Linked DNA regions of Homo sapiens: region 1 is linked to region 2. Evidence: fine-mapped expression QTL. A gene starts in region 2. The other region holds a variant in brackets. All regions are shown on one strand. Distances are from middle to middle.

Region 1 (15,467 bases), 51 kb after region 2:
TGAAATCGTGGGCAGTGTGCTGCAGGTAGTAGAGGGGAGGGGTGGGAGACAGTCCTTACAAGTGAGGGTTGCCCCCGAATCACCTTCTCACCACATTCATTGAGAATGGTCATCCTGTCCCATCCCTGACCTTGGAACTCACTGTGTACCAGCCTCTAAACTGAGGTGCGTTCAGGAGAAAACACTACTGTTTTTACTGTCATAAAATTAAGCCTGGCAGTAGAAAAAGAAAACAACCTGCGGTGCTTTGCATAAATATATCTCCTGGAGCTGTTAATCAGTAACACAGGAATCTGGTACCTTTTGAAGCCAGTTATGGTCTGTATACCTAAGATAAAACACGTTTTATGTTCATTAAAAATGATATGGCAGTGTTTACCTTCTTAGAAAATGCAGCAAGTACTATTTGAATGAGACTCCTGGGCCAGCACTCAATGTGAATCAGGCTAACATTGACGATAACAGAGTAGTCTGTGCCTGCCTGTGCCTGGACACTAATTGGAAAAACCCAACAGCTACCTCCTTGGTGATCTCTGCCCATTTGGGCAAGTTCCAAAGAGCCAGCTCCACTCAAAGTAACTTCTCTCTTTTTTTTTTCTGTAACCCAGTGCCTGAAAACCAGGAGGAAATCATTTCCCTGATTTCTGTTTAGCCTTCTAAAATCATGGCAGTAGTTGTCTTATATTCAAGGGCCACTGACATTGGGGGTTTTTGGTTTCTAAGTCATTTCCTATCTCTGTTTCACTCTTACCTTTTCTCTCCTTGCTTTATTTCTATGCTTCCCTGGTTTCAAGCATCATTCTTGCTGCTCAGCAGGGTATGAAATAACAGTTCATGCATTAATCACCCTAACCACGGTTCCATCCTGAGGGCAAGGGACTGTCAGGCCATGGTGGCCCTATCAGTCAGAAGCCAGGGCTATTAGGGCTGGCTGTGGCAGCCAGGGCCCATCTAAGATGATGCCCATTTCTTGGTGAGCCACTCACTAGCCATCGTTTATTGAATTTTCTTCTAGCAGTGCAAGAAGAGAGAAATGAGGAGAGGGCGGTAATAAGATTAACATTCCTCTCACCTTAACTCATTGAAAGGATCTGTCATGATTTTGTTCCAATTGTGTTTATAATTGGTCTTGCCCAGTTTGGCATGTGGCTGTGAGCTTCCTGAGATGGGTCTTTGTCTTCTTTTCAAGTGGTCTGTGAGCTGCCTGAGTCAGGGATGATGTCTCTTGTTTCTGGACTCCTCTGCAGGGTTGGCTGTGTCAGGAAAATGCAAAGTGAGCATGTGAGGTGGGAAGGAGACTGAGCTAAGTGTCAGCAACAGCAGCTTCTTTCTCCTTCAGCACATTTGCTGGATGTGAGATATAGTTGGAGCAGTCTAGAAGAGTCTTCAAGCAGGAGGGCAGGTGGGCACACAGGCAGGCAGAGTGGACTTACTGTTTTGTGACCATGAGGTGTCTCTGGCTGGCTGGAGTCCAGGCTGGCTCCAGGGGCCTGCAGGATTGATTCATGCTACCAAACCAAAGAGAACTGAAGCTGCTGCTGGGACAGAACATCCTGAGCCACCAACGTACAGAGTTTTGCCTGCTGTGAAGCTCAGCTCTGGTGTCTTTTTCCCCAAGTGTTGAAGTGTCCTGGAATTCTCATGTATAAACAGAGGATTAAAGAATGCAAGTTTCTTAGCTATTTAGGAGGCTGAAGCAGAAGGATCACTTCAGTCTAGGAGTTCGAGGTTACCGTGAGCTATGATTGCACCACTGCACTCCAGACTGGGTGACACAGCAAGACCCTGTCTCTTGAGAAAAGAAAAAAATAATGCAGGTTTTTATGTATGTGATAAAATTCTCATAAAATTTGCCATTTTAACCATTTTTAATGTACAATTCATTGGCATTAAGTACATTCACATTGTTGTGAAACCGTCACCACCACTCATCTCCAAAACTCTTTTCATCTTCCCAAACTGAAACTGTGTCCCTGTTGAACAACAACTCACCATTTTCTCCTACCTCCAGCCCCTAGCAACCACCATTCTACTTTCCATGTCTATGAATTTGACTACACTGAGTACCTCATATAAGTGGAATCATATAGTATTTGTCCTTCTGGACTGGCTTATTTCACTTAGCACAATGTCCTCAAGATTCATCCATGCTGTAGCGTGTGTCAGGATTTCCTTCCTTTTTTAGACTGAATAATATTCATTGCATATTTATACCACATTTCGTTTATCCATTGACACTTGGGTTGCTTCCACCTTTTGACTATGTTTCTAAATACTGCTGCTGCAAACATGGGTGTACAAATATCTGTTCAAGTCCCTACTTTCAATTCATTTGGGTAAGGGTTTAAAGCACAAGGAGCAGGATGTCTTTGAAGATCAGTTTCTGATGAATCACCGTTCTCTGCTGAGCAAAAGTCAGCTTTACTCACCATCTAATTTTAGACTCCAGCATAACTATCACTGGACACTCATAATATCAGACTTCATTTTGATATTTGATAGGCTTTCACAACATTTTATAATTCCAGTTTGATATATCCCCGATATATCCCCTTTCATTGACCACATTTCAGCTGGCCACTTCCTTATGATTGTGGAGGCACCCTTGTCACTTATTGGTGGGCACTGGACTAGGCAGTGCGCCTTACTACCGCCAGCTTGCTCTAGTGGCGTGGGCTCTTAATGACTTTGACCCTTCTCTTTCCTGACCCTAGTTGAGCTGGGCTTTTGGCCTTGTCCCCAGACCTGGCTCTTAGGACTTGAAACCATGAGCCTGCTGATGACTAAGACTGTTGAAGCCACTTGTCTTCCCCTCATGGCAGCTTTGTGCAAGCATGGTATTATCCCCCATGTCTTCCAGTTTTTGTAATCTGCTTTTGTTTCATCCAATTCTTATACAACATTTAGAATTATTGGAATTACATATGTGTAACTTCCTAGGAAAGTATATTTCTGAAATGCCTTGGCACAGGACCGGTTTTTCCCCATACCAGCTAAGGACACACTTGGGTGATAATTGGCTTCCTTGAGCCAGTGTCCATCTGTATTTGCCAGGCCACTTAGGAAGTAGAGATGGCTGGTTGTGAAACTCTTGTCTTAATGGGCATGTGATTATTCTCTGTGTTAATTTCTTCCTAGCAATTCTCTAGATTCACAAATGAGCCAACTCAAACTACTGCATAACTAAAAATACTGAGATCAGTTCCAGTGTACTGGTAGACTTTGAACTCATGACGTGGTAAGGACCTAGACTGTGGGCCATGTGGCTCTTGTGAGTGAGGCAGGGACTGCCCACTGTAGCCATCTGCCCCTGCCTAGAAGGATGTTGGTGCTGCTCATAGTTCCCAGCCAGCCTTCCCTCCCTGTGTCTCAGGCCCTGTAGGGGCAGCATGTGGAGAAAGCCTGTACCCTGCACTTTAGGAACTTAGAGTCTAGTTAGGGAATATGGGAACACTGACAATAAGCCAGCCACTTCTGAGACAGTCCTATTTTCTTTGTTCTATTCTAATAGCAGAAGTAAAAAGGAAAACATCACGGGCATACAGAATAAAAGTCTCCTATTCTTACCCCCAAAACTCTGTTCTTCTGGACACTGTACATATCCTGGCCTGTAGTCTGCCTTTTTCATCTAGATACTCACCTTGAGCCCATCTCTGCCTCAGTGCTGTATTCTTAAGGACTGCTTGATATTTCTAAGGCTGTTTTTGAATGATTGCAATTACAGTGTGCTGGCAGGAATTCAGAGTCAGAAAGACCCTTAATGGGGTAGGTCAGGAAGATCTCTTGGAGGAACCACCTAGAGATCCCAGGTTCTGGGTAGGATCCAGTGAGATGTTGCAAAGGAGAAGGAGGAGGAGGAGGACATCCTCTGCTACTTTTCTCTTCTGCTCTTCTCAGGGCTGATGGTGCCTTCTCCTGCTCTGGCACATGGCCCCTGGGGCAGGGAGTGGGAAGGATCAAACAATATTTTGTTGTCAAGGCATTTTCATCTTTGGGACCTTACTGTAGACACCACTGTCAACCCTGCTTTTTACAGATGTTGATACTGAGGTTTGGAAAGGTGAAGGGGACAGCCCAAGTCATGGGCAAAACCAGGAAGAGGAGGGAATGTCAGCTGGGTCTGAGCTGGGATGAGCTGACAAAAAGGATCAGTACATGCTTAGTACTGCGGCTACCATTTCATTACCCTGATGGTTACCTTATTTTCCGGATGCTGGAGGACAAAGGCGGGAGTTTGCCAGACAGTAGATCAGATCCTTCCCAGAAGAACAGAGATCTATGTGGGGTGTGGAATAAGAGCTCTTCACACAGTAACCCAGCTTTCAGCTGGGTCCCTGGCCTACACCCTGGGAGGGGCCTGCTCATGAATCAGGCAGCTATTTCTGGAGCTGATATGAGGCAAGGGGGCACTTTGCTGCACTGGGGTAGGCAAGCCATTCCTCTGGCAGGGAGAGAAGATCAAAGAGGTTGTTCAAAGGGTATGCAGCCAGTTCCTGGAGGGTGGCTGGTGTCTATGCTCACAAGTTATTCCAGGGTGAGCCAGCTATATACAGATCGACCCCCAAAGGCTGAGGGAGCTGAGAGGCTGACACATCCAGTTTCTCAGAAAGAAACATTTAATAGGGACTTAAGAACAGAAGCAATGTCTCAGGTGGAGGCAGGGTGGATCCCTGTACGTACTCTCCAGAAAGTATTATTTAAATAGCAAGCTTTTAGGGTAAACACATGTATAGCTGGTCATGCCTCAGAGTTTATTTTTTTGTTTGTTTGTTTTTTTGAGACGGAGTTTCGTTCTTGTTGCCCAGGCTGGAGTGCAGTGGCGAAATCTCGGCTCACCGCAACCTCTGCCTCCCGGGTTCAAGCGATTCTCCTGCCTCAGCCTCTCGAGTAGCTGGGATTACAGGCATGCGCCACCACACCCAGCTAATTTTGTATTTTTAGTAGAGATGGGGTTTCTCCATGTTGGTCAGGCTGGTCTCGAACTCCTGACCTCAGGTGATCCGCCCGCCTCGGCCTCCCAAAGTGCTGGGATTACATACGTGAGCCACCATGCCCAGCTGCCGCAGACTTTCTTACAAAACTCTAGGAAGATTAGACAAATATCTTCACTAGAGGTTATTTATGCAATAGGCATTGTTTCTTTTTTTCTTTTATTTTTGGAGACAGGGTCTTTCTCTGTCACTTGGGCTGGAATGTGGTGGTGTGATCATGACTCACTGCAGCCTCAAACTCCTGGGCTCAAGCAATCCTCCTGCTTCAGCCTCCTGAATAGCTGGGACTACAGGCATGAGCCACCACACTCAGCTACTTAAAAATTTTTTTGTAGAGATGGAGTCTCACTTTATTGCCCAGGCCAGTCTTGAACTCGTTAATTCAAGGGATCCTCCCGCCTCAGCCTCCCAAAGCACTGGGATTACAGGTGTGAGCCATCATGCCCAGCCTGGCATTGTGTTTTTATAAGGAGTTGTCTATGCTATGGGAATACATCAGTCATCGTGGTTTCACTTCAAGATGGTGTCATACCAGGCACAGTGGCTCATGCCTGTAATCCCAGTACTTTGGGAAACCAAGCAGGAGGATGGCTTGAGGCCAGGAGTTGAAGACCAGCATGGACAACATAGCAAGACCCTGTCTCTACAAAAAATTTTAAAAATTAGCCAGGTGTGGTGACATGCACCTGTTGTCCTAGCTACTTGGGAAGCAGAGGTTAAAGGATTGCTTGAGCCCAGAAGTTTGACGCTGAGGTGAGTTATGATCATGCCACTGCACTTCAGCCTGGGTAATAGAGCAAGACCCTCTCTCTAAAAAATAAAAATAAAAAAGATGGTGTCATTCTTGCCATGCAACAAACTGTTTTCCTACATAGGTGTCACTGCCCATTCAGGATCAGTGGAACGCTAGGACTGGCAGGTGGTGTAGGCAGATACAGGTGAATCCCACTGTGGGGATTCCTGCTGGGGTGACCACAGTACCTGGGTTGTTTAGGCCTTCAATCAGTGGGAGGGAGTTGGGGAAGGGGTTGTTACCAGGCATGGGCCTGGGCCTGGCAGTCAGGATACAGGAGGTGTCTGTGGCCCCTGGACTCCAGCCTCTGGCTGCCATCCTGATTGTTCCCATGTCCCATATGTTTCTCTTCTGTCCCAGGCTCAGTATACAAACTCCACATCCTCTGACTTGGAAGCTGCCCAGCCCTGAGCTCTGCCTGGGCTTCCTAGTCATACTTCCCAAAGATGTGACCGGTTTCCCTGACTTTGAACCTTGGCTCTGATGTCATGTAGTTAGTTGAGGCCAAAGGAAAACTGATGGGGACTGTTCATGTCTGTGTGTGAGCTGGAGTGAAGGAAGGTGTGCCTAGGCAGGGCCTTCGGTTCCTGGCAGTCCCCTCCCCAGCATTCTTGTATTTTCCTGCCGTGAATCTACTGGAGATAGAGATCTGGCTCTGTTCTGCTCTTCCTCTTCTCTCTGAGTGGCTTTGGGCATATCCATCCCTTGCACTGGAACTCCGTTACCTCCTCTCTACAGCGAGGGGCTAACTGATCTTGCAGGCCCCTTGCTCCTAGAATAGCCTGTGACTCTGACTCCCAGCCTCCTGTTTATTTCTGAGGCTTCTTCCCAGAGTGGGTAAACACCTCCTCTTCTTTCTCCCTGTCTACAAGAGGCCTGCTTTTGGTCAGGGGAGGGGTCTGCCTGAAAGGTCATAGGCATTTGAATAATAGTAATAACATCAGTGAGCATTTACTGAATGCTTTCCAATGTGCGAAGCACTGTGCCCAGCATTTTACATGCATAATCTCTTCATTTTCCCAGCAACCCTATGATGGGGTATAGATTACTAATATTATTCCTGTTTTATAGCAGAAGAAACTGAGGGTTGGAGAGGTTATTACCTGTCCAAGGTTACATGGCCAGTGAGTAGATGACCCTATATTTAAATTCAGCTTGATATTTTATTAAAATTCCTATTCTGGGCTGGGCGCGGTGGCTCACATCTATAATCCCAGCACTTTGGGAGGCCAAGGTAGGCGGATCACTTGAGGTCAGGAGTTCGAGACCAGCCTGGCAAACATGGTGAAAACCCGTCTCTATAAAAAATATATATATATTTATATATATATAATATATATAAATATATATTAATAATATATAATATATTTATATATATTAATAATATAATATATAATATAAATATATATTATATACTAAATATTATATATATATATATATATATATATAAAAATTAGCCAGATGTGATGGCGCATGCCTGTAATCCCAGCTACTTGGGAGGCTGAGGCAGGATAATCACTTGAACCTGGGAGGCAGAGGTTGCAGTGAGCCGAGATCGCACCCTTGTACTCCAGCCTGGGCAACAAGAGTGATACTCTGTCTCAAAAAAAAAAAAAATGTGGAGGGGATATTTCCAGGACACAGGAAAGGATGAGCCCAGTGACAGTACTGCTGATGCTGAGAGAAGGCCAAGGGGTGGGGTGGGCACTACCAAGGGTCAGCTGAGTAGACGCTGAAGTTCCTGACAAGGGTCCTGGTGCTGCTGAGGTCGCTGACTGGCAGAGGTGGAGAGCAGCAGTGTGGGAGTCAAGAATGGAGGGGCTCTGCTGAGGAAGTGAGAGGAGAAAGCGGAGTATGATGGATGTTCACACTCACTGGGGTGAGGGGAGCCAGAGGGCTGGTTAGGGACCTGGAGGTGGCCCCTGGAGCATCATGGAATCCTCAAGGCTGTGCATAGGCAGAGACCAATGGCGCCTGCTCCCTTGATGCCGTCTTCCCCAGAACCTGGCTCAGGTGGGCTCCTGAGTACCTTCCCAAACCCCAAGAGAAGAGGCTGGGGTTGATTTGGTAAATTCTGAAGTACTGCCACCTGGTGTGAAGGGCCAGGGGTTGCAAAAGAAGCCTTAATGAGCTGTTTGGGATCTTGCATGGGCAGGGGGGAGAGGGTTAATAGGGGCTCAGCCCTAGGAATTGCAGCAGTATAGGGGTCCTCTCTGGTTTGAGCTCCTTGGAGGGAGAGTTGTGATTTGATAGCATCCCCTACTTGCCAGGTTTGCCCAGCAGAAGTCCTGGTGCTAGCCTAGAACTCAGAGGCTGCAGGGCCTGAGAGGAGACAGAATTGGATTTAAGGCATATTTGATAGGTGGAACTATGGGTTAGGAGGTGCCAGGTCAGGCTATAAGAGGAGCATGGTTGTGGGGAGTTGGACCATGTGAGGTGTCTAGGTAACAGTGACTTAGGGAGGCAGCCCAGGACTGAGGATGGGGCCACTGGGGCTAGGAGCCCAGATTGGTCAGTGCCCACTGCCCCTAAAGCCCCCGGAACTATCTTAGAGCAGTTGAAATAGACGCTTGAAGAGATCCAAGGCATTCTAAAACTAGCTAGGCCCCACCCTTCTGCCATGAGGACCCCCAGGAGCAGCTTTGAGTGTGGCATTGGAATCAGACGAGCCTGGATTTGAGAAAAATGTAAAAGCAAAGTGAAAACCTCCACCTCTCTCCACACCCTGACCTTTAAGTTCTTGTATATTTCAGAAATGTGTGTGTGTGTATTTGTGTGTATATCCTTCTTATTGTACAAATAAAATAGATGCACTGCTCCAGACCTTGCTTTCATCCCTTAAATTATTGGTCACGTGGAAGAACCACCTGGTTCTTTTAGTAGTAGTCTATTATGTGGTGTGCTTTAATTTACCCAACTGGACTCACCTGATAGACATTAAGGCTAGTTTGGGGTTATTTTGATGCAGCAACAACCATACTTTACATAGATCCCTGAACGCTGGGACAATTATTTCTGCAGGATAAATTCCAGATACAAATTTTCTGGGTTGCAGTTGTTGTCTCTCCCCTTCTCCCTAAATTCTCCTTCAAAGAGATTCTGTCCATTCCCACTCCTGCTAACAGTGTATGAGAGTTATAAAATGATGATAATAATACAGAGCTGTTGGGAGGATTAAATGAAATCATATGTAAAGATTTCCGCCGGTGCCTGCCATATCAGGGCAGGCTTCAGGGGTGGGGCTCAGGGCAAGGGTTGCATTGAGAATTGGATCACTTTGGACAAGCAACAAATAAAGTACTGGGTTGGGTTTCCTGGTCAGCTTGGAGGAGAGGTGGCAGGAACAGTGGTCTGATAGCTGCTGAGTACCTGATGTGTGCCAGACACTGAAACAGGGAAAGCGCAGTGAACCAGATCAGCTTGGCCCCTGCCCTGCCCTTGTGGAGCTAACAATCTAGACAGAACCAGTCTGCAGAGTGTGGTAAGTTCTACCAGCATGCTGCCACTCCAAGTCCCCTCTGACTGGGTCTCTCTCTCCTCTGCCCGCCCTGCACCCCCTTCAACAGTGTACGTGATAGAACGGGAAAGGAAGATGGACAGCGGGTGTCAGGCAGTCCTGGCTGCTTGCTGGGCTGCTCTCTGCTGCTGCTGCCTCCTGGACAACTTGAACTGAGCAGCTAAGATCCGAGTATTTCCCTACAGCCCTGCTACCTCCTGTTACAGGAATAAACAACTACTGTTGCACAATTTCCATTTTCTTCTTTCTTTGACAATAACTCACAGATTTTTAAATTTTAGCACCTTTCATAGGTGTGAAATGGTATCTCACTAATTTGCTTTCCCTGATTACTAGTGACCTTGAACATAAACATATAAGTTTTGGGCAGTTTGTACATATCTTGTGAATTGATTATACATATTCTTAGCCTGTCTTTTCTGTTGGTTTGTCTTACTGATTTGTAGAGAATTTCTATATATTCTATCCACTAATATTTGTCTGTTTTATAGGTGTGCAAATATCTTCTTCCTATCTGACTCTCTTTTTTTTTGGAATGGAGTCTTGCTCTGTTACCCAGGCTGGAGTGCAGTGGCGTGATCTCATCTCACTGCAACCTTTACCTCCTGGGTTCAAGCAATTCTTGTGCCTCAGCCTCCCAAGTAGCTGGGATTACAGGCACGCGCCACCATACCCTGCTAATTTTTGTATCTTTTTAATAGAGACAGGGTTTTGCCATGTTTTCCAGGCTGGTCTTGAACTCCTGAATTTAAGCGATCCACCTGAGATCCAAAGTGCTGGGATTGCAGGTGTGAGCCACCATACTTGGCCTCTCTTAATCTTTTTATGGTGTATTTTCTAGTATGAGAAATTTTAGAAGTCATGTTTATCATCTTTCCCTCGTGCTTTGTATGGTTTAGTCTTTGAAAACTCATTTTCTATTCCAAGCTCATAAAAATAAGTCTATATTTTCTTTTAAAAATGTTTAAGATATAGTCGTTAGTCCACCTGATTTATTTATTTATCTATTTATTTATGTATTTATTTATTTTTTTGAGACCTAGTTTTGCTCTTGTTGCCCAGGCTGGAGTGCAATGGCATGATCTTGGCTCACTGCAACCTCCGCCTCCCTGGTTCAAGCGATTCTCCTGCCTCAGCCTCCCAAGTAGCTGGGATTACAGGCATGTGCCACCACACCCAGCTAATTTTGCATTTTTATTTTATTTTTTGAAATGAGGTATTGCTCTGTCACCCAAGCTGGAGTGCAGTGTCACGATCTCGGCTCACTGCAGCCTCTGCCTCCTGGGTTCAAGGGATTCTCTTGCCTCAGCCTCCCAAGTAGCTGGAACTACAGGCATGCACCACCATGCCCAGCTAATTTTTGTATTTTTAGTAGAGACAGGGGTTTCACCATGTTGGTCAGTATGGTCTCGAACTCCTGACCTCAGGTGATCCATCCATCTCAGCCTCCCAAAGTGCTGGGATTACAGGCGTAAGCCACCGCGCACCTGGCCCTGAATTTATTTTTTATCATGGGTGTAGGATAAGATTCTAGTTTTCTTTTT[C/T]CATCTTGGTAGTTCCAGCTGCATGTATTAATTAGATCATCCTGTTACCAAGCAAAAGGGGCTCACTGCCTGATGTGCTAGAAGCCAATTCCATGACACTGGGTTTTTGAGAAAAGAAATGCTTTTATTATAAGTTAACAATTAGACAGGATTCCAGCTCAAATCTGTCTCCCTGTCCTGGCTTTAAGGCAGTAATTTTATTAGAAAAGGTTAGAGGGGTGGATTCCAGGATGAGAGATGGTTGATGGAAGGAAAGAAGAGGTTTGGAAAGTCCTGGGGCATGTACAATAATCTCTTCATGCTACCTCTTGGATCCCATGTGCAAATTCAGGGGAGGGGTTAGCATGAAACATGCAGTGAAAATTCAGGCTGTGACATCATCAGCAGGCTCATTCTGTCCAAACTCCAGCTGGCCATATTGGTTCTAACAGATTTCACTCAGTTCTTTTGCCTCATAAGCAGAGGCGTTTCAGTGTTTCAGCAAGTTGTTTCTTGACTGCCATCTTGTAAACTCTGTTAGGGATTGGTGTCTTTAATCTTTGGGGCACAGTTTCAGTCCTTTCCCTATTAATCTGAGATGAGATTTGTCATATACCACGTTCCCATATACGAATTAGAATATGAGCTAGAATCAGGAATCTGGTGTGATGTGTACCCTCCTTCCACCAGCACGTGCATAAACACATACCTCTTATTCTTTTTCGTAATTTTCTTGGCTTTCTCGGCCTTTTACTGTTTCATCTACATTTTAGAATGTGTGTTAGTTTCTACAGAAAACCATGTTTGGCTTTGATTGGAACAGCATGTAATTTATCAAGTAATTGGTGAAAGAGTTGACATATTTACAATATTGTCTTCCCACCATGAACAAGTAATCTCTCAATTTATTTTTGTCTTCTTTTTATGTCCTTTAAGTCTTAAAATTTTCTTCACATAGTTCTCACATATTTTTATTGGTTTTTAAAATTAGATTTTTCTCCAGGTATAATTTTAATGTTACTGTGAATAGATTACTTTTTTAAAATGTTACATTTATTACTTGGTGGAAATAATTTATTCATTCCATTGGGATCACACATTAGAAAATTTTAGCCCATCTTTGTCACACCATTCCCTTGGGGGCAGTTCAGCTGTGAGGGGAGCAGTTCTTCAGTCTGTCCTATGCATGCTCCAGGGAAACCACCAGGGTTCTACAGAGACAATCATGGATTCCGTAAACGTAGCTCCAGAGTGTCAGGTGACAGACCACACAGAACAAACCCCCAATCCCTGCTTTTGCAGGGCTTATACTCTAGGGAGGGAACCAGACATTAAATAAACCCACAGGTAATAATTGACATCATACTTCCCTGTGAAGAGAAGAGACATAATGCCATGAAAACCTACAAAAGGGGAACAATCTGGCACAGTCCAAGAAGGCTTCCCCAAGGCAGTGAAGTGAGCTAAGATCTGAAAGATGTATAGATGTCAGTAGGCAAAAGTGTAGGAACAGCAGGTGCCAAGGCCCAATGGCAGGAAAGATGGTGGCTCATTTGATAAAGTGGAAAAGGAAATTGGTGTCATAGGCCGCAAGGGGACATTAGGAGCAGTTGAGAAACAGGCAGGAACAAGATGGAGGCTCATAGCCCAAGTTAAGGATTTTGGTATTTGTCTTGTGAGTAATGGGAAGCTGTTGAAGGATATTAAGCAAAGGGATGATATCACATTTGCATTTTTAAGAAATCCCTTTGGCTTCTGTGTGGAGAGTGGTTTGGAAGGGGGCACAGGTACACATGGTGATTATGGAGAGAAATGAATGCATTTGAGATATTGGGAAGTAAAATCAACCAGACTTGGTGATGGATTGGATATGGACATTGAGGAAGAAGGTAAGAGTCAGGGATGACTTCTGGGTTTCTGACTGGAACTGGGTGCCTGGTGGTGGTGTTTACAGAGGTTGGGAACAAGAGAAAGGAATCATGATTGGTTGAGAGAGAGAACAAACTGAGTTAGTTTGAGGTTTCAAAGTATCTATGAGACATTCAAGTGGAGCTGTCAGGTAAGCAATTGTATATAAACCTGAAGCTTGGAGGAGAGGTTGGGCTAGAGATGTCAATGTGGAGAGCCTTGGCATGTTGATGATCATTGAAACTGTGGCCGTGAGTAAGATCAACTTGGATGGAAATATGGAGGGAAAAGGAAAGATGGCAGTGTAGGGCTGAGCTTTAAGGAATTCTGGATGGATCTGCAAAGGAGTCAGAGAGAGAAAGCTAGGAGAATGGGATGTCCTGAGAGCTGAGTGAAGATGTATTGGGAAGAGAGGATTGATTAGTAACATCAAATGTTGCTGAGAGATTAGGTAAAGTGAGAACGCAAAAGTGTCTACACTGTTTTCACTGAGGAGGTGGACTTTTCTCCAGTTCTTGTTCTGTGAAGGAAATCAACAGAAGGAAAGACAAGACTGCTTGGAACTAGAAGACAGGGCTCCTCAGGCCTGGAGAAAGGCAGACATGTGTGTAAGCATGGAACAGGCAAGCTCACAGGTGCAAAGAACTAGCTGAGGCAGGAAGGCTAGGAACCTCCACTAAACTGGACAGAAGCATGCTAACAAAACATTGAGTTCCAAAAAGGTTAGACATCAAGTAAGGGAGTCAGGCTAATGTCACTCAGCTTTGAGCCTGAACAGAGGAGACATTGTTCCTCAAGAAGACTATGTCCTCTGCGGTAGCTGCTGGAGGGTCCAGCACATAGATAACCAAACAGATGACCATCCATGCCCTGGGGAGGTCCTTCTGAACAGTAGCAACAGTCTAGATCTTTCATGACCACCATTACAGATTTTGCTAATATACATCTTTTGAAAGGAAACTCTACATGCAACTCCAGTCTGGAAAATAGATACTATAGAATTGCTGTGGTTGAGGCAAAGAGGAACCACCCCCTACTTTTTATGAAAGCTTAGGGGCCTGAGGAATACATTTGAAAGCCCCTGGTCTTTGGGATTTTGCAGTGCATTTGGCCACAGGAGATTTGGGATGGTAGGTTTTGCCCTGGAATGTCATTCCAGGATACTGCCTTGCGAGCACAATCATCAGTGTGTTAACTGCTGGTGTATTCTATGAGGATCTGTGGATACTTTATTGCTGAGAAGTATTCCATTGTATTAGAGGTACCCCAGTTATTCATTCACCTGTTGAAGGACCATTTGGGTTGTTTCTACCTCTGAGTGATTATGAATCCATCTGCTATAAACATTGACGTTCAGGTTTTTGTGTGAACCTAAGTTTTCATTTCTCTAAGCTGAATACCCAGGAGTGGAATTTCTGGATCATATGGTAGGCTTAAGAAACTGCTACTCTTTTCCAAAGTGGCTTTGGCATCGTGCGTTCCTATCAGTAATGAATGAGAGTTCCGGTGGCTCTGCATCTTTGCCAGTACTTGATATTGTCAGCAATTTTTATTTTAGCCATTCTGATTGTATGTAGTGGCATCTCATTGTGGTTTTAATTTGTGTTTTCCTAATAGTTAGTGATGAAGTCATGTGCATATTTGCTCTCCGTATATCCTCTTTGGTGAAGTGTTTTTTCAAGTCTTTTATCCACTTTCAAATTGGGTTGTTTTCTTACTGTGGACTTTTGAGAGTTGTTATATATTTTAGATACAAGTCCTCTGTTGGCTGTGATTTGCACATATTTTCTCTGCGTCTGTAGCCTATCTTTTCATCCCCTTAACCGTGTCTTCCATGGAGCAAAAGTTTTCATTGTGATTAAGTCCAGTTTATCAATTTTTTATTTTATCACGTTTTTGGTGTCAGTCTAAGGACTCTTTGTCTAACCCCAGGTCATGAAGATGCTTTTCCATGTTTTCTTTAAAATATTTTACAGTTTTATGTTTTTCATTGAGATCTATAATCCACTTGGGGTTAGTTTTTGTATAAAATGTGAGGTTTAAAATAGCTGAGGGGTTTTGTGAGGTGTTCTGCATGCCATACCAATATTTTTCAAAATGCTTTCTCCAATGAATTGCCTTTGCTTATGTGTCAAACCAGTTAGCCATGTTCATGTGGGTCTATTATTGTCTTCTTCATTCCATTCCTTTGATCTATGTGTCTGTTTGCCAATACCATTAACCGGTTATCTTGACTACTGTAGCTTTATGTTAAATCTTCATTTTAGTCATTTTAGTTCTCTTTCCTTTCCATAAATTTTAGAATTTGTTTATCTTTATCTATTAAAAACTCCTGTTGGGATTTTTATTGAAATTGCATTAAATCTATAGATCATCATGGGGCCTAATGGGTATTTAAGTGGGATTGGTTGCTCACCCTTACATGCCATAACCTTTAATGATGGCAGGCAGCCTGCCCATTCATTTGCTGGGTTGTAATTATTCCACAGTTAAAGCCCCTAGTGTATGATTACATTGGTGTCTTTGGAAGTTGGCAGTAAATGAGGTATACTATTCATTAAATTGGGTAGGAACAGCCATTACAAGATGGCCAGTATGTTGAGGGACTTGTGGGCCGGGTTATGCTCTGAGTCAGGTCAGCCACCATCATTCACAACCGTGGTCTTCCTGTGCCTCACTTCTGAGCAGGTCATGAGCAAGATCATACACTGTTTGCTGCCATTGGAAAATCCTCC
Region 2 (15,467 bases):
GCACAGAGCATGTTATCTGATATGCCTCAGTCCCTACCACTTCCCACCATCCCCCGCAACCACACCCCAAGAGAAAATATGAGCTAAAAGGCAGATATAGATATAGGTGTTCTGGTCTTGACCCTACCACTCATTTCCTGTGGCTCCTTGAACAGGTGTCTACATCTCTTAGGAAGAAGAGAATAATGAGATGATGTATGCAGAGCACTGGCAGAAAGCCTAGCATAGAGGAATCTGAGGATTCGCCATGCATGCTTCCTGGTATATAGTACTAGTTCTTGTCAATGGCACAGAGACTTGAAGACTGTATATAAATGGACACACCTACTAGAATGTAAGCTTCATATGCACAAGGACTTTAAAAAATCTGTTTTGCTTATTTCTACATCCCCAGGGCCTAGAGCAGTCCCTGGCACATGGTAGGCCATAGGCCCTCAGTAAATGTGTTGAATGAATATGTGGATTTAATATTTCCCTGACTTATTTTCTTATGTCATGTGCTAAGTCATCGGTCCATTTTAAAAATATAAATGCAAATAGACTTATAAGCTGATTATTTCTAATTTATATGTGTTGAATTTATTTTCTTAATTACTGAAAAGATTAAAAAGCAGAAGGATGCTTCATAGTTGACGGAACTTCATTGCCATAGTCATTTGACTCACAGCCTGGGAGAAAAATGTATTCTTCTTCTAGGTTGATTTTCTAAGATCACTATCAGAAGGCCAGGCTACTTCAGGAATCAAGTCAAAATTAAAAACACATGCATTTATGTGATACCTCTTGAGAACGCAAGTTGCTGTACAAACACATTTAAAGCATTAAGTGCTCCCTGATGCCCTTTCCTCAGAAGTAGTACTTCCAGAAAGGAGAGTGCATTTAGGTAAAACCAATGGCAGGTTCTATGCAATGATATCAACATGGCTCAACCTCTGAGTGCCAGAATTTGCTTCTCATTAGATACAACTTTTCTGGAAATACAAGAGAAGGTAAGTTGATTTCCAAGTGAATTCAAGCCTATGAATTCACAGGTTCATAGCTGTATTACATTACAGAACCTTTCAATAGGAGGAGCTTTCAGGAAGCTTGTGGTTTCAGTATTGGTGGCCTGTAGGGGTCAGTTGTGTTTTTTGTTTGCTCAGCATCCATTCCTCCTACTTCTGGTAACTAAACTTGAATTTTCCTTGGGAAGCCATTCTTCCACACTTTCAACTGTGGGATTTGGGGGAGGCTGTGTTCACCCCCAGCTCCAGAAGAGAACATGGAACCAGCCAATGTGTTACATGCCCTGGCTACGGCCACACATTCAGGAGAAAAGCAAGTTACCCAACTAAGCTCCTGACAGGGCGCGGTAACTCATGCCTGTAATCCCACCACTTTGGGAGGCCGAGACAGGTGGATCACTTGAGGTCGGGAGTTCAAGTCTAGCCTGGCTAACATGGTGAAACCCTGTCTTTAATAAAAATACAAAAAAATTAGCTGGGCGTGGTGGGGTATACCTGTAATCCCAGCTACTCGGGAGGCTGAGGCAGGAGAATTGCTTGAACCCAGGAGGCAGAGGTTGCAGTGAGCCAATATCATGCCACTGCACTCCAGCCTCGGTTACAGAACGAGACTCTGCCTCAAATAAATAAACAAATAAATAAATAAATAAATAAATAAAAACTTAAAAAATAAAAACTAAGCTCCATTCTAGAGCTTTTCTTAGTATTATTAGGAAAGAGAAAGCCTTTTGTCTGCTGAGACTTTTCACTGTGAGAATGAAATTCTGATACCATCAGAAGGATTATCTGAGAATGAAGACATGCAAAGAAAAGAGCTGAGAAAGAGAAAGGGGAGAATCCTGGTGACAGTGTTTGAGTGCCTGGATCCAGCTATACCTGAAAATCAGACTCATCCCTGGATTTTTGGCTTCATGAGCCAATACATTATCTCTCCCTCTTTAAGCTGATTTGAATAGTGCTTCAGCACTTGCAGTGGAGAAATTCCTGACAAGCAAATTGGAATTTGAAAACATAGATCAGAAAAAGAGCCAGAAGGGCCGGGTGCAGTGGCTTATGCTTGTAATCCCAGCACTTTGAGAGGCTGAGGTGGGTAGATCACTTGAGCCCAGAGTTCAAGACCAGCCTGGGCAACATGGTGAAACCTGTCTCTACAAAAAAAACAAAACAAAACACACACACACACACACACACACACACACACACACACACACACACACACACACAAATTAGCTGGCTGCGGTGGTGTGCACCTGTAGTCCCAGCTACTCGGGGGAGAAATTGAAATGAACCAGAGGCCAAGTCTCAGTGAACTTCTCCAGTGCTTTAAACCTCTCTATACTTGACTGAGGGAGAATTCTGATAGTATTTGCGATTGAGCCTGGGAGCTCCACAATTATATTGTTCAATTGGTGCAGACTTTCATTCAGTAGAGTTACTGAGTGCCTGTGCATGCCATGTACCAGCAAGTGGACAGGCTTTCTCATTTTCAGGAGGGGTTGCTTCTAGTCCCTGGTCAGCCCTTCTTCACCCTTTGGGGCTACACCATTGCCTTCTGACCCAGCCTGAATACTTCTGCCAAGTGATTCTTCCCAAACACTGCATTCCATTCTCATTTCCCACTTCAAGGAACTTCAGTGGTTCCCTAAGTTTTCATATTGAATCTATTCTCATCTGCTCAGTCCTTAATAAAACTAATAATAAAAACTAAGTTTAAGGCACTTACAATGGGCCAGGCATCATGCTTACATTTCATAGGTTGCTCAGTTCATCTTCAAAGTGACACTATAAAGCAGATATCAATCTTATTCCTATATTTTTTGGACGAGGAAACCAATGCACAGAAAGATTAAGTAACTCACTCAAAGTCACATGGTCAATATGTGGTGATGGAGTCCAAATGCAATCCTGTCCCTCTGGATCCAGACTCCATGCTCCTCCCAGAAGATTCTACTGTCTCAAAAGCTCTCCCACAGTCTGCTCCATCTCTATCTTATTTCCCACAACTCCCCAGTTTCCACGGTTCAGTTAGGCTGGTCTTACAGCTATGCCCACCATTACCTAATTTCATTGTCTTTGCTTTTTTTGTTTAATCATGCATCCATTCATTCAACAAAGCGTGGCTGATCTTACACTATGCTGATAATTTCATTATTATCTTTGCTCATTCATTCATTCATCTAGCCAGTGAATATTTACTGAGCCCCTGCCCCGGCTGCTCAGATCACCGCCCTGACCCAGAATGTTCTCCTCACCTACCACCTCTCCAAATCCTATCTTTTTTTTGTTTTTGTCTTTGTTTTTTGTTTTGTTTTGTTTCTCTGTGATGGAGTCTCGCTCTGTTGCCCAGGCTGGAGCGCAGTGGCACAATCTTGGCTCATGGCAACCTCCACCTCCTAGGTTCAGGCGATTCTTCTGCCTCAGCCTCCTGAGCAGCTGGGATTACAGGCATGCGCCATGACGCCTGGCTACTTTTTGTACTTTTAATAGAGATGGGGTTTCACCATGTTGGCTAGGCTGGTCTTGAACTCCTGACCTCAAGTGATCCACCCACCTTGGCCTCCCAAAGTGCTGGGATTACAGGCGTGAGCCACTGTGCCTGGCCAATCCTATCTTTCAAGGCTCTGCTACAGACCCTTCCTTTCATGTATCCCACCTTAGCCAATGCAGCTGGCATGGCCCCTCTTTCCATGAACGCTGCGGGCATGGAAGGACATGACATAGTTTAGCATTCAATTTCACAGCAGCCTGGCAAGGTCTCACACTGTCTTATCTTCCCATCAGAAATTGGATGCCTGACCAAGCCAGGGCACATGCTCCTTCTGTATCCATCAGTCTTGAGTGTACATTAGGCATCCAAGAAACATTCTTTCATCCAGTTGTTCAGAGAACAAATGTGGTCCAATAAAAATACAATGGTTTAAAAAATGGCCCTTTAAAAAATATTACGAATCTGGGTTCTCTTTCTTTGCCCTGGAATTCACCTAAAGTTTATGATAGTCTTGTGAGGTAGGTATTATTATCTCTATTTTACAGATAAGGCAGAGACTCAAAGAAGGTGAGTAACTTGGCCAAGTTCACAAAATGGATAAATCTCAGAACACAGGCTCCCAACGACTGCACCATGTTGCCTCCACAGTCCTTGGACAGTTCTCCCGAATGAACAAATATTGAAAATTCATTGTTACTTCTGTGACTAATGGACTTTCACAGCAAATATGCTTGGCCAGGACCTTGTACCCTGACATTTTTCTTTTATTTCCAGGAATGGAAACCCACACTGCTGTTGTGAAGACACCTGATGAAACTCCAGCAACTTCTACATCTGGCCTGCTGCTTAGTCCTGGGACCTGAGGTCAAAATCTTAGAAAAGAGCCATGTGAGATGCATTCCCTGGCCTCATCTCTGTTCTTGGATGCTGTCAGCAACACTCCTTGAGTTTTTACCCACATAATAACACTTTCCTCAGCATGGATGTGGAGGTGGGGGTGAGGAATGTTCTATTTTTCCTTCGATGGTTACGCCCTCACCCTACCAACTCAGTAAAAGGGGAGTGGTCAGGGAGCGTACTGAGAATGTGTCCTAGCATCTTTTCTTCCCTAGCACAGCCTTCATATGACCCAGCTGCCATGAGAAGCTTGCCTCCCTTCTAAGGGAATTACCCCTGCCTTCCACTCCATCCTCACCTTGCCCTGCCCAGATTAGAGGCACGGAGGCATGTACCACAGGCCTGAAAAACTGTCCAGCCAAAAAGCCTGACTGCCTTGAGTACTATCAGGGTGTAGTTATGGACGTGCCTGTTTCTGCTCTTCCCTCTGCATTAGTGCTCTGCAAAGGGTGGCTCTTACCCTCAGATGGTCCAGAGGTAGTTTGGGGTGTGCATGGATCACCTTCACTCTTCAGAGGCAAACAGACAATGCTGCTCTTCTCCAACAGCCTCTGAAGGACACCACCTACTGACTGGTTCTGAGATGTTTGCTGCCCCAGAGTCTCCCACCTGCTTCTTCCTCCCCCTCAGTCCTTTTTTGTAGCCTCTCAGCCTCCCTTCTCTTAATGCTCTTAGCACCCTTTCCTGGGTCTCTATTTACCCTGCCCTCCCTTTCAGCAACTCCTTCCCAAACCACTGCATACTTCTCCTTTCTTTCCAATCCCTCCTCCCTTCCCAGCACTTTCGCCCTCCATTGAATCCCTCAAGCCTCATTCTGGCCCCACTCCTCCCCTCACCCTCTATCCCTGCCCTCCTCAGATCTGCCAAACACCTCAGGCCTGGCTGCCTCTGTCCTGTTCCTACCAACCTTCTGACCATGCCTCTGTGCTCCTTGGGACCTGGGCTCACATTTTCAATCTCTTCTCTCCTATTAGTACAGCTCTGTCTAGAGCCATGGTTCTTCTCTACCTTTCACAGCTGTCTTCTTTCCCACTTATATGAGTTTCTTTAAGTGTGAAAATTAAAAAGTGCCACTTAAATACAATGATTAAGTCATAATAAACAGTACAAGTTGTACTTATGTGAGACATACCACCCATACACGTTTGATCTTCGAGAACCACATCTCAATCTGCCCATGGCCCATTGCCTGACACTAAAAGATGCTCACAAGAAGTTGACTATAAACTAACTTCTTGGTCTAAGATCCTAAACTCTTGAGAGGGAAGGTTTCAATACATATGAAACCTTCTTGGCAGTGCAGGGATGAGGAGAGTAAAACTGAAATGAAAGTCAGCAAATAGTGAAGGTGTGAAATAGGCAGTGACTCTCACACTGAGACCTCCAGGGGATGTTAAATTTTCATTTCGAAGCTGATAGTCTTATCTGGGAAGCCTAGAGAGTAACAAAAGTTGTAGGCATATACTTATATTAGAGTGGTGCAAAAGTAATTGCTGTTTTTGCCATTTAAAAAAAAAATGCAAAAACCACAATTACTTTTGCACCAACCTAATAGCAAGCAAGGGGAGGAATATGGAGAGAAAATCAATTTCTAAAATGAAAAATAAAAAATTTTTTGCAAGTAGGACTTGCAAGCTCATTCTAGGCCTTGCTCTGGGAGCTTTTCGGTAACTTCTCTTCCTGTTGGAACAGAAGAAGGAAACCTTCAGGACAGAAGATTCTGTCCCCCTTCCCCCTCCTGATGTGAATGAAGTCTCATTACACTCTAAAGTACTGGCGGGACTACTTGTTGCAAGGTTTATGGGGAAAAGTAGCCAGAGAGCAATCCAGTTATCAGCCTCAGCCCCATTCCGCTCAGGTACAGCTCGGGAAGTAAGCCCCCAACCCTAGTTGGGTCTGGACCAACAAGACACGAGGAGGCAGCAGCCCACAGCCGACCCCTCATGCCACGCACTGAGCAGGGTTCCGCATGGACGCTGGTCTTGCCTCCCAGGCGCCTGAACTAGCGGAGTTGGGGTATCGGGTGGAGTCTCGGAGAACCAATCCAATCTGAGGGGGACGCCTGTGGGAGTCCTAAGTATCCAGCGCAGCTGGGAGGCCCACGTTGGGAAGTCGGAGACCGACCCCGCCTCCCGACTGCGCCGACTGCAAGAGAGCGCTTCCGGCGGCGCTTGGAGGCCGAGCAGTTGGGGGCGGGGCTCGTGCTGTGACGCAAGCCTCGCCTCGCCCCGCGCCGCGCGCGTTGCCAGGGTGATCAGGTGACTCCCGGTTCGCGGCGCTGGGAGCGGCCGTGACGTCAGGCGCCCGGCTGCTCCTCACTTGCTCTGAGACAGGTGCGGCAAGTCTACTGCGGGCTGGTCCGGGCTCCTCAGGTTCAGACCCGACCGTTATCCAGTCGGTTCGTGGAGAGGAGAGGTGAGGTGCAGCGGACCTGGCCCGACCCAGCTGGGACCAGGGCGGGGATCAGGCACGGACAGGGCGCGTCCCCGGGCTCCCTGGGGAGCGCCCTGAGAACTGGGGGGCACCCGGGCTGGCCTGGCTCAGGCAGGGGTTCGCGCAGCCCCTGGGGAGGGGCAGGGAGGCAGGGAAGCTGCTGCCGCCAGCTGGATCCCTCCCGGCGCCCCGCGGCTACTCTGGGGCTCCTGGTCGCCGCGCCGCGCGTCTCGGCGGTGGACTCACAGGGTCTCCGCGTCGCTGCGGTTCTCGTCTCACGAGGAGTCGGCGGGCTCGGAGCGGGGCTCGCCACACCCCGTCCCGGGGGACGTCCGCGGGAGGCTTCTGGATTTCTTCGCCTTGGGCTGCGATTTCTGAGGCGCTGCTCTGCCTATTCCGAGCTGGGCCAGCCGGGGGCAGGGGGCAGGTCGCGAGTCCCGCGGGTGGGAGCGGAGCGGAAGTAACTAGTGACTGGAAGTAACTAGGGAACGCAAAGCCGGCGCTCGGAGGCCGGGGTGTTCAGAGAAGGCGTTGCGGGGGAAAGGAATCCCGGCTGCTGTTGAGAGCCGTGGATTGGGATCTGAGCGGACCTGTTGGAGGAAGTGAAATCTGAGCGGGGTCCTGACGGGTGGGAACTAATCTCCCGGTAGCAGTGGAGGTTGCAGGGGGGAGAGAAGGAGGGGAGGACCCCTGGGGAAGGAGACCATGAGGAAAAACGATTTGGGGACTGACTGGACCGTCTGCTGGGCTGTTTTGGGGGAAAAAAAGTTTGGAGAATTAGGTTAGGGAGGATTAGGAAAGGACCCTTGAGTGCCCACCTGAGAGGCACTGTGTGCTGTGGGGAGCCATTGAAACGTTGGCTAGATTGGGGTAGGGGGAACACTGAGGAAGTTGGTGTGAGGGGAACACTGAGGAAGTTGGTGTGACATTCCGGCAAAAAGGTGACAACACTCTTCTCTGATGGGATTCCTCAAACCCTGCTTATGAAATACTTGTAACCGACAAGGGTAGGGGCTCAGGCAGCCAGGTGCCTTTTTCAGCCATTGTTGGCAAATTTTTAGAAATTAAACAAAAAATAATTGTACATATTTATAGATTTATACAATATGATACATGTAAACTTTGTGGAGTAACCATGTTAGCAGATTTTTAAAAATTCCTTTTTATGAAAGGACCCACCCAAGGGCAGCTCATTTTCGAGTATCTCATTTGACGGGATTTAATGACTGGTTGGGAGCTATGCCCCCCTCAGTATGCAGGGAGATTATAGCGTCCACAACACTTTGCCCTTCAGAGGTTTCAGAGTGACTTACAAACACCTTGTATCCCTAGGGTGAAACCCAAACCCCAAATGACTGGTAAGAGATTTAATAGGGGGAAGTTATTAAAGGAGAACCAGCATCCAAACATTCATGTGGGGCATTGGATTCGCTGAAAGGAGTCCCATACTATTTGTTGATTGTAGATCAAAGATCTCTAGACCTGGCCTGGTGCGGTGGCTCACACCTGTAATCCCAGCACTTTGGGAGGCCGAGGCGGACGGATCACGAGGTCAGGAGATCGAGACCATCCTGACTAACACGGTGAAACCCCGTCTCTACTAAAAATATAAAAAATAAGCCGGGCGTGGTGGCGGGCGCCTGTAATCCCAGCTACACGGGAGGCTGAGGCAGGAGAATGGCGTGAACCCGGGAGGTGGAGCTTGCAGTGAGCCGAGGCTGCGCCACTGCACTCCAGCCTGGGCGACAGAGCGAGACTCTGTCTCAAAAAAAAAAAAAAAAAAATCTCTAGTCCTTTCCTGCCAGCTTTGAGTTTCTCCGTGTAAGGCTGCGTAAGTGTTAGTTGGCTATTTTGTCTTAATTTCCTGAGCAACAGGAAAAATATATTTTGGTTATATGAAGAGGAATGCTTTGGTAATTTATGATTTTTCCCAGCCCTGAAATTTATTGGTGCTAGGACCAAAAATACACAGCTGTCTATTTTATTTTATTTATTTGTTTATTTTTGAGGCGGAGTCTTGCTCTGTCGCCCAGGCTGGAGTGCAGTGTCGAGATCTTGGCTCATTGCAACCTTTGCCTCCTGGGTTCAAGAGCTGTCTATTTTATATTGAAACTTACCAAAGTCTGTTTTCTGGGAGGTAGTGAAATTATTTTGTATTTCTTTGACTCCAGAAAACAGAATTGGACCTCCAGGGATCCTGTACAGTGAAAGGCAGGTTTGGGAATTGCGAAGGAAGGTGGCCGCAGCTGGTTTGTGCGTAAATATAGAAACCGGTGCAGCACTCAAAGGAGTGCAAATCCAGGGTGAGACCTGGGGAAACGGGACTTCCAGTCAGATCAGTGAAGTCATTCTCTGTAAAAGAAGCCCCGAAGTGTGTAAAAGGCCAGAGTAGTTTTTTCCCCGTGTGTTCCTGTTGAGTGGTAGAGATTATGATAGTGATTTTTAAGGGGCTTTGCAGGAGCTTGTTAATATTAAGAATCGCTGGAAATCAGATGTCTTGGCCTCATTAAAAAATTTAGAAAAGTAACTGTTTTCCAAATCTCTTTGATACTATTTGAAGTGGCCAACTAATTATGGTTCCTTTGGAAAGAAACAGTCCACCCCCTCCTTTCCCAAACAAAATAACTATGTGCTGTCAGGGCAGTTAAGTAGGCCAAAAGTTTTTGGAAATTTTCTGCTTTCATTCACCCAAGCCACCCCCACAAGTTTTCTCATTGGTAGAGAACTTAAGACTTTACTGTCAGGAAAAAAATGTTAGTGTGTTTCCCTAAATACAAACTATAATAAACAACAGGGCTGGCCTTTAATAGAAATGCTCTTTCTTAAGGGGGACTGGGCTGAGGTGAAAGGCAGGGCTGGGGTATGGGCTGGAGCATTTTGAGCTCACATTTGTCAACTAAGGCCTTGAGCAGGGCACTCCTTTCTTGGCATGGAAACTTTCTTTGACCTTGAATGCGGGTCAGTACCTCCTCACAGAGGTACCAAGGAGAATTAATGAGAGGCTTATATGAAATTTGAGCTCCTCCAAAGCAGAATATTTTAATTCTTGGATGAATGGTATATTTTGAGATGTGATAAAAGTTTTTTAAAAGAGTTTGAAGTTCTAAGTTTTTGGAAAAGCCCTATTCAAGTCCTTCCTTTTTTTTTTTTTTTTTTTTTTTTTCAGAAACAGGGCTTGCTATGTTGCCCAGGTTGGTCTCTAACTCCTGGGTTCAAGTGATCCTCCCACCTCAACCCTGTGAGTAGCTGGGACTACAGGCGACCATGCCTGGCTATCTAAGACCTTTTTGCTGATTTGGTTTTTTTAATTTTTTTGAGACAGGTTCTGGCTCTGTTGCCTGGGCTGGAGTGCAGTGGTGTAATCGCAGCTCACTGCAACCTCCACCTCCTGGGCTCAAGCCATCCTCCCGACTCAGTCTCCTGAGTAGCTGGGACTACAGGCCTGCACCACCACACCTAGCTAATTTTTTGTGTTTTTTGTGGAGATGGAGTTTTGACATGTTGCCCAGGCTCCCCTCAAACTCCTAGGCTCAAGCAATCTGCCTGCCTCAGCCTCCCAAAGTGCTGGGATTACAGGCATGAGCTACCATGCCTGGACTTTTTGCTGGTTTTTTGTTTTGTTTGGCTTTGTTTTTTCCTGGGGTTTTATGGGCTTGGTTACTAATCAGCCTGTAATCAAGATCTGAGGCCCGGTGCGGTAATCCTAGCACTTTGGGAGGCTGAGGCAAGAGGATCGCTTGAGCCCAGGAGTTCAAGACCAGCCTGAGCAACACAGGGAGACCCCATAGCTACAAAAAATTTTTAAAAATTAGCTGGGCATGTGGTATGTGCCTGTAATCCTAGCTACTCAGGAGGCTGAGGTGGGAGGATCGCTGGAGCCCAGGAGTTTGAGGCTGCAATGAACCATGATCACGCCACCGCACTCCAGCCTGGAAGACAGAATGACATCTTGTCGCTTAAAAAAAAAAAAAATGGCTGGGCACGGTGGCCCACACCTGTAATCTCAGCACTTTGGGAGGCCGAGGTGGGTGGATTGCTTGAGGCCAGGAGTTCGAGACCAGCCTGGCCAACATGGCGAAACCCTGTCTCTACTAAAATTACAAAAACTAGCTGAGCATGGTGGCATACGCCTGTAATCCCAGCTAAGTCGGGAGGCTGAGGCACAAGAATTGCTTGAACCCAGGAGGCGGAGGTTGCAATGAGCCAAGATTGTGCCACTGCACTCCAGCCTGGGAGACAGAGGAAGACTCTGTCTGAAAAATAAAAATAAAAATTTGGAAGCCTGAGGCTAACTAAATTCCTGTTTATATTTCATATATAAATAGTAAAGCTCAGATTGTTCACTCTCTTTTTTTTCTTTCTTTTCTTTTCTTTTGAGACAGAGTCTTGCTCTGTCTCCCAGGCCGGAGTGCAATGGCACGATCTCAGCTCACTGCAACCTCTGCCTCCCAGGTTCAAACGATTCTCCTGCCTCAGCCTCCCGAGTAGCTGGGACTACAGGCATGCACTACCATGCCTGGCTAATTTTTTGTATTTTTTAGTAGAGACGGGGTTTCACCACGTTGGCCAGGCTGGTCTCGAACTCCTGACCTCAGGTGATCCACCCGCCTCAGCCTCCCAAAGTGCTGGGATTACAGACGTGAGTCACCGCGCCCAGCCTCACTCTCTTTTTTCTTTTATTCTCTGTTAACCTGGTCTTGGCTTTTTTTGGAGTGCCTGGAGTAAACCAGTAACAGAAGGCTGTGGAACTGGCAGCCTATGACCCAGCATCTTTTTTAACAGCAAGAGTATTATCAGAAAGTGTCACAGCCCTCAAAGGAGTAAGTTATTAAGCTGGTCAGAGACAAAAGGGAGTAAGATTGTTCAGTAAATTGGATGAGGAGTGAAATAGTCATCTTTTAAAATTTCCCTCACCTGTGTCAGGCCACCAGTCCTGTCACTCAATCTAGTAGGATTCGAGTGCTTGCTGATGTGCCCAGGGACACTACGTACTGAACTACAACATCCATCTTTTAGACTTCTGACATTTGTTGGCCAGGTCAAGCTCTCTCTCATGAGGGAAATTCTGACAGAAAAGGCTTTCTGTTATCTGTAGGCTTAGCTGAGTGCCATGTTTCAGGCTTCCAAGCTCCTCACGCTTGGCCAAGGCTACTAATTGGCTTGGCTATAAAATGGGAGTCAGCAATTAAACAGCAGTAGTATAAAGCAAGGGAATTGAACATAAACTGACCCTCCCACTTTACAACCAAAAATGTTCACACCATTTTGGGCACTACACAAAGGAGTCTTCAAAAGGAAGTGAGCTTGGAATGATTCCTTTATAGCTTTTAGGAGATGTATGTGGAATATTATTATTGATTTAGGCCTCCAAGTCAGATCTTGGAAACTGGGTAGGTCCTCACATCTAAAGCAAAGGAGACAAATGGTTTGAATCCAGTCTCTGTGGGCAGCAAGCTTGTGGTATGACTTTGCCAAAACAACAGATGATTTATATTTTTCTAAACTCTTTTCATTAAATGGTTTAAGGGAGAATATTGATGGTCATGGTGGGAGGAGGGTTTGATCTACCTGAATTTACTCACTGAAGAGTAAATGCCTTATTCAGAGGTTCCTATCACTAGTTTCCTGATTATTTGTACTAAAGAATCATTAGCCAGTCTCAAGAGCATTGGCTCAGAAAACATCGTAACTGAAAACTATCTAGGCATGCTTCTTATTCAGAGAAAAGTAGGGATGGGAAACAGTTGAACTACAAAGACATTTGGGGAGAGGAAGACCTGGGAAATGGTGCTAGACTTCTGCCACGTTAAACGTTTAATGCTGCACGCAGTACTTTACTGGTCAGCTTTCAGTTTCAGAATCTTAGGCAGAGTCAGTTGGGGAGAAAGTGTGTGAAGAGGGGGACATTTGTAAGAATGTGGCTATTCTGTGAGCCCTTATTGTTAAGTCGAATACTTAGTGCTTTCCTGCTGCCACTAGCTTCCTGGACACTCCAGACTTTGCCCTTCTGCCTCTTCCCCACTAACAGCCTTTCCTCCCCAACACCACCCTCTCTAAAGCCAATCTAATCTTTGATCGCAGTTTCTGCACCCTTCTGGCTCTGCTAACTTTGTTGAACTAATTTTTGGTGGCCTTTAATGTCTGGTGGTGGCTGTGTGAGAAACTAATGAGGGATAATTGTATTTACTTACTGATTATTATTTTGCTTTAGGGACAATCTGCCAGACTGGAGTGCATGGCATGATCATAGCTCAGTGCAGGCTCAAACTCCTGGGCTCAAAAGATCTTCCCACCTCAGTCTCCTGAGTAGCTAGGACTACAGGCACATATCACTGTGCCTGGTTAATTTTTTATTTATATTTCATAGAGATGGGGGTCTCACTATGTTGCCCAGGCTGGTCTCAAACTCCTGAGCTCAGGCAATCCTGCTGCATGAGCCACTGCACCTGCAAGAGCCACGGGGGCCACTGCCACTGCAAGATAGCAGGACCCCCGTCTGTATTTTTTGCTATGTTGACTAGGTCTTGCTATGTTGACTAGGCCATTCTTAAAGTCCTAGCCTCAAGGGATCCTCCTGCCTCAGCTTCCCAAAGTGCTGGGATCACAGGCGTGTGACACCACCTTCGGCCGGGTAGTTGTATTTAAAGGGAGGGTCTTGAAAGTAAACCCTAGTGTTTTTCACACTTCATTTGTGTTCCCCTGCATGATTTTTGTCTTATCTTTATGTCATCTGTACTGTTGTTTAACATTCTTCTTAAAGTTGACCCATTTTTTAAAACCCTAAAATTTGTTTAAAAGGGAAACGATATCATTGCCTTAAACTGATAACTACTACATCACCTGTCACAAATAGAAGGTATAAATTATTGAAGTTGTTTGTCCATGTTCCCCAAGTTCCACATATCCCACCTGGGGCAATACAGCCTTTACCCAAAGATATGACTCACTAATAGTGAGTTTTTCAGGCAGCAGTAGATGGGTGGTAGGATGGTTTGGAGTAGGCAGGCCTTCAGAGAGGGCCCCTTCAATCCTATCTTTTCCTAAAACTTGTGTGGTTCTATGATACTAGGAAGGCCACAGAATGAAGAATCTAGGAGGTAACAAGAGGTAAATGCAATGTGAAACCACTTCTGTTTTGATCTGAAGTTTGCCAAAAAGAGGCCTGAGTGGTGGTGAGGCTGTATACTATATTAAATTCTAGGCCCTCTGCCAGGGGTGTGGCTTCATTGATGCTGTGTTACATTGTTCTTTCTGTGCCAGCGTGCTCTTAGAAAACTCAGATTCTCCTGGGAAACTCAGATCTTTCTTGGGGGGCAGGAGGGATGCTTTTTTTTTTTTTAACTCATCAATAACCCAAACTACTTTGAGTTCCTTTCACATATAGAGAACTGTTTGTGGATGTTGCTAATGATAGAAACTGAAGTTATCATCTAGAATTTTTTTCCCCCAATCTTCATTGTCCGTAAAGCCTATTCCTTTAAGAATCCTATGAAAACAGAAGAAAGGGGGAGGGTGAGCTGCCCTGGGTTGTATGGTCTCTTAGGGTGCAGCACATGATAGGCATGAGTGGTACTTCCTGGTTTGATGTGAAATTCACTGTTGTCCATTAAGAGCCACCCCGCAGTGCTGACTGAGCTGCTGCTCCCTCAGAGGGTCAGGAGAGCGTGCTTTCATGATGGAGCAAAGCCAGGCTGGCTTGGTATTCATCAGGAACCAGGAGCGCTTAGTTAAATTGCCAGCACGTTAAGCTGTAGGGGCCTCTTTCTAAATCATCAAGATTTCAACTTTCCCACAAAGCCTAATCTAATGCTCTGGGAGGAGGCAGGCAGAGCCTGTCTTTCAGGGGCTGGGCTGGCAGGGGACCTGGCCTGGGAAGTGGCCTTATCAGGCTTGTTGGGAGGGATGGACCTGTCCCTTTCTAGTGTGTCCTCTCAACTTGGCAGGGGGCAGAGTTCTTCCCTTTTCTCTCTCTCCATGCCCTAACCGCTCCTTTCAATTCCCCAACTCACTTTCTGTGTTCACAGCTTTCTTCCCTTTTCCTTTCCCTTCTGTTCAATACTGCCCTCTCTTTTGAGCCTCTCTCTTGCTGGGCCCCATTTTCTCTCCATTCTCACTTTGAGGGTTGACTATTTGAAGTTCCAATTATAATGCTGTCCTATATGTCCCAGTGACTAGATGTAATTCAGAGATCCCTACCCTATTTTTCTGAGGAGAAGCCAACCTTCATTTCTCTACTGGCTTTCAGATAGCAGTGTTGGTGGGGTACTGACCAGAGTCCCTGAACTGAGTGGTTGGGTGAGGCTGGATGTGCTCCTCCCCGATATGGGGGTCCCAGCAGTATGGGGAAGGTATTATAATCAGGGTTTGCTGACAATGCCAGGATCCATTAGACAAGGGGCTGAGGCTTACCTGTGGGGACCCTTCCATAAGCTGAATGCAGAGGGGAATACTGCATCCAGGCAGTCCTCTAGCTTTTGCAGAGGACCATACATGATGAATGAAGGCTGGAGAAGGAGCCCTTGGGTGAGGTTAGCCTGGAACCCACAGGACTATTTGCAGCTGTGGATCCTGCCCTGAAGCTAGGTTTTCCCAGGTAGCAACTGGACCAAATTGTCTTCCCATGTGGTTAGATGGATTGTTGGAAG

Evidence for each region. PIP is the estimated chance that this variant, and not a neighbour inherited with it, causes the effect.
Region 1: its variant is fine-mapped to the expression of CYSTM1 in whole blood (TOPMed, PIP above 0.99).

The regions. Positions count from the first base shown.
Region 1 is chr5:140,219,380-140,234,846 of GRCh38, forward strand. All of the region lies in intron 2 of CYSTM1 (cysteine rich transmembrane module containing 1), which reads left to right. Among named protein-coding and RNA genes, the nearest start is that of CYSTM1, 52 kb to the left of the region's middle. The variant C/T (reference allele first, on the strand shown) is at 10,846.
Region 2 is chr5:140,168,482-140,183,948 of GRCh38, forward strand. It overlaps CYSTM1 (cysteine rich transmembrane module containing 1), which reads left to right and starts at 6,707. Exons shown (of 3, transcript NM_032412.4): 1 at 6,707-6,804. It overlaps LOC101929719 (a long non-coding RNA gene), which reads left to right. Exons shown (of 5, transcript NR_130738.1): 5 at 156-304. RefSeq lists silencers at 1,324-1,519, 6,805-7,094 and an enhancer at 6,285-6,514.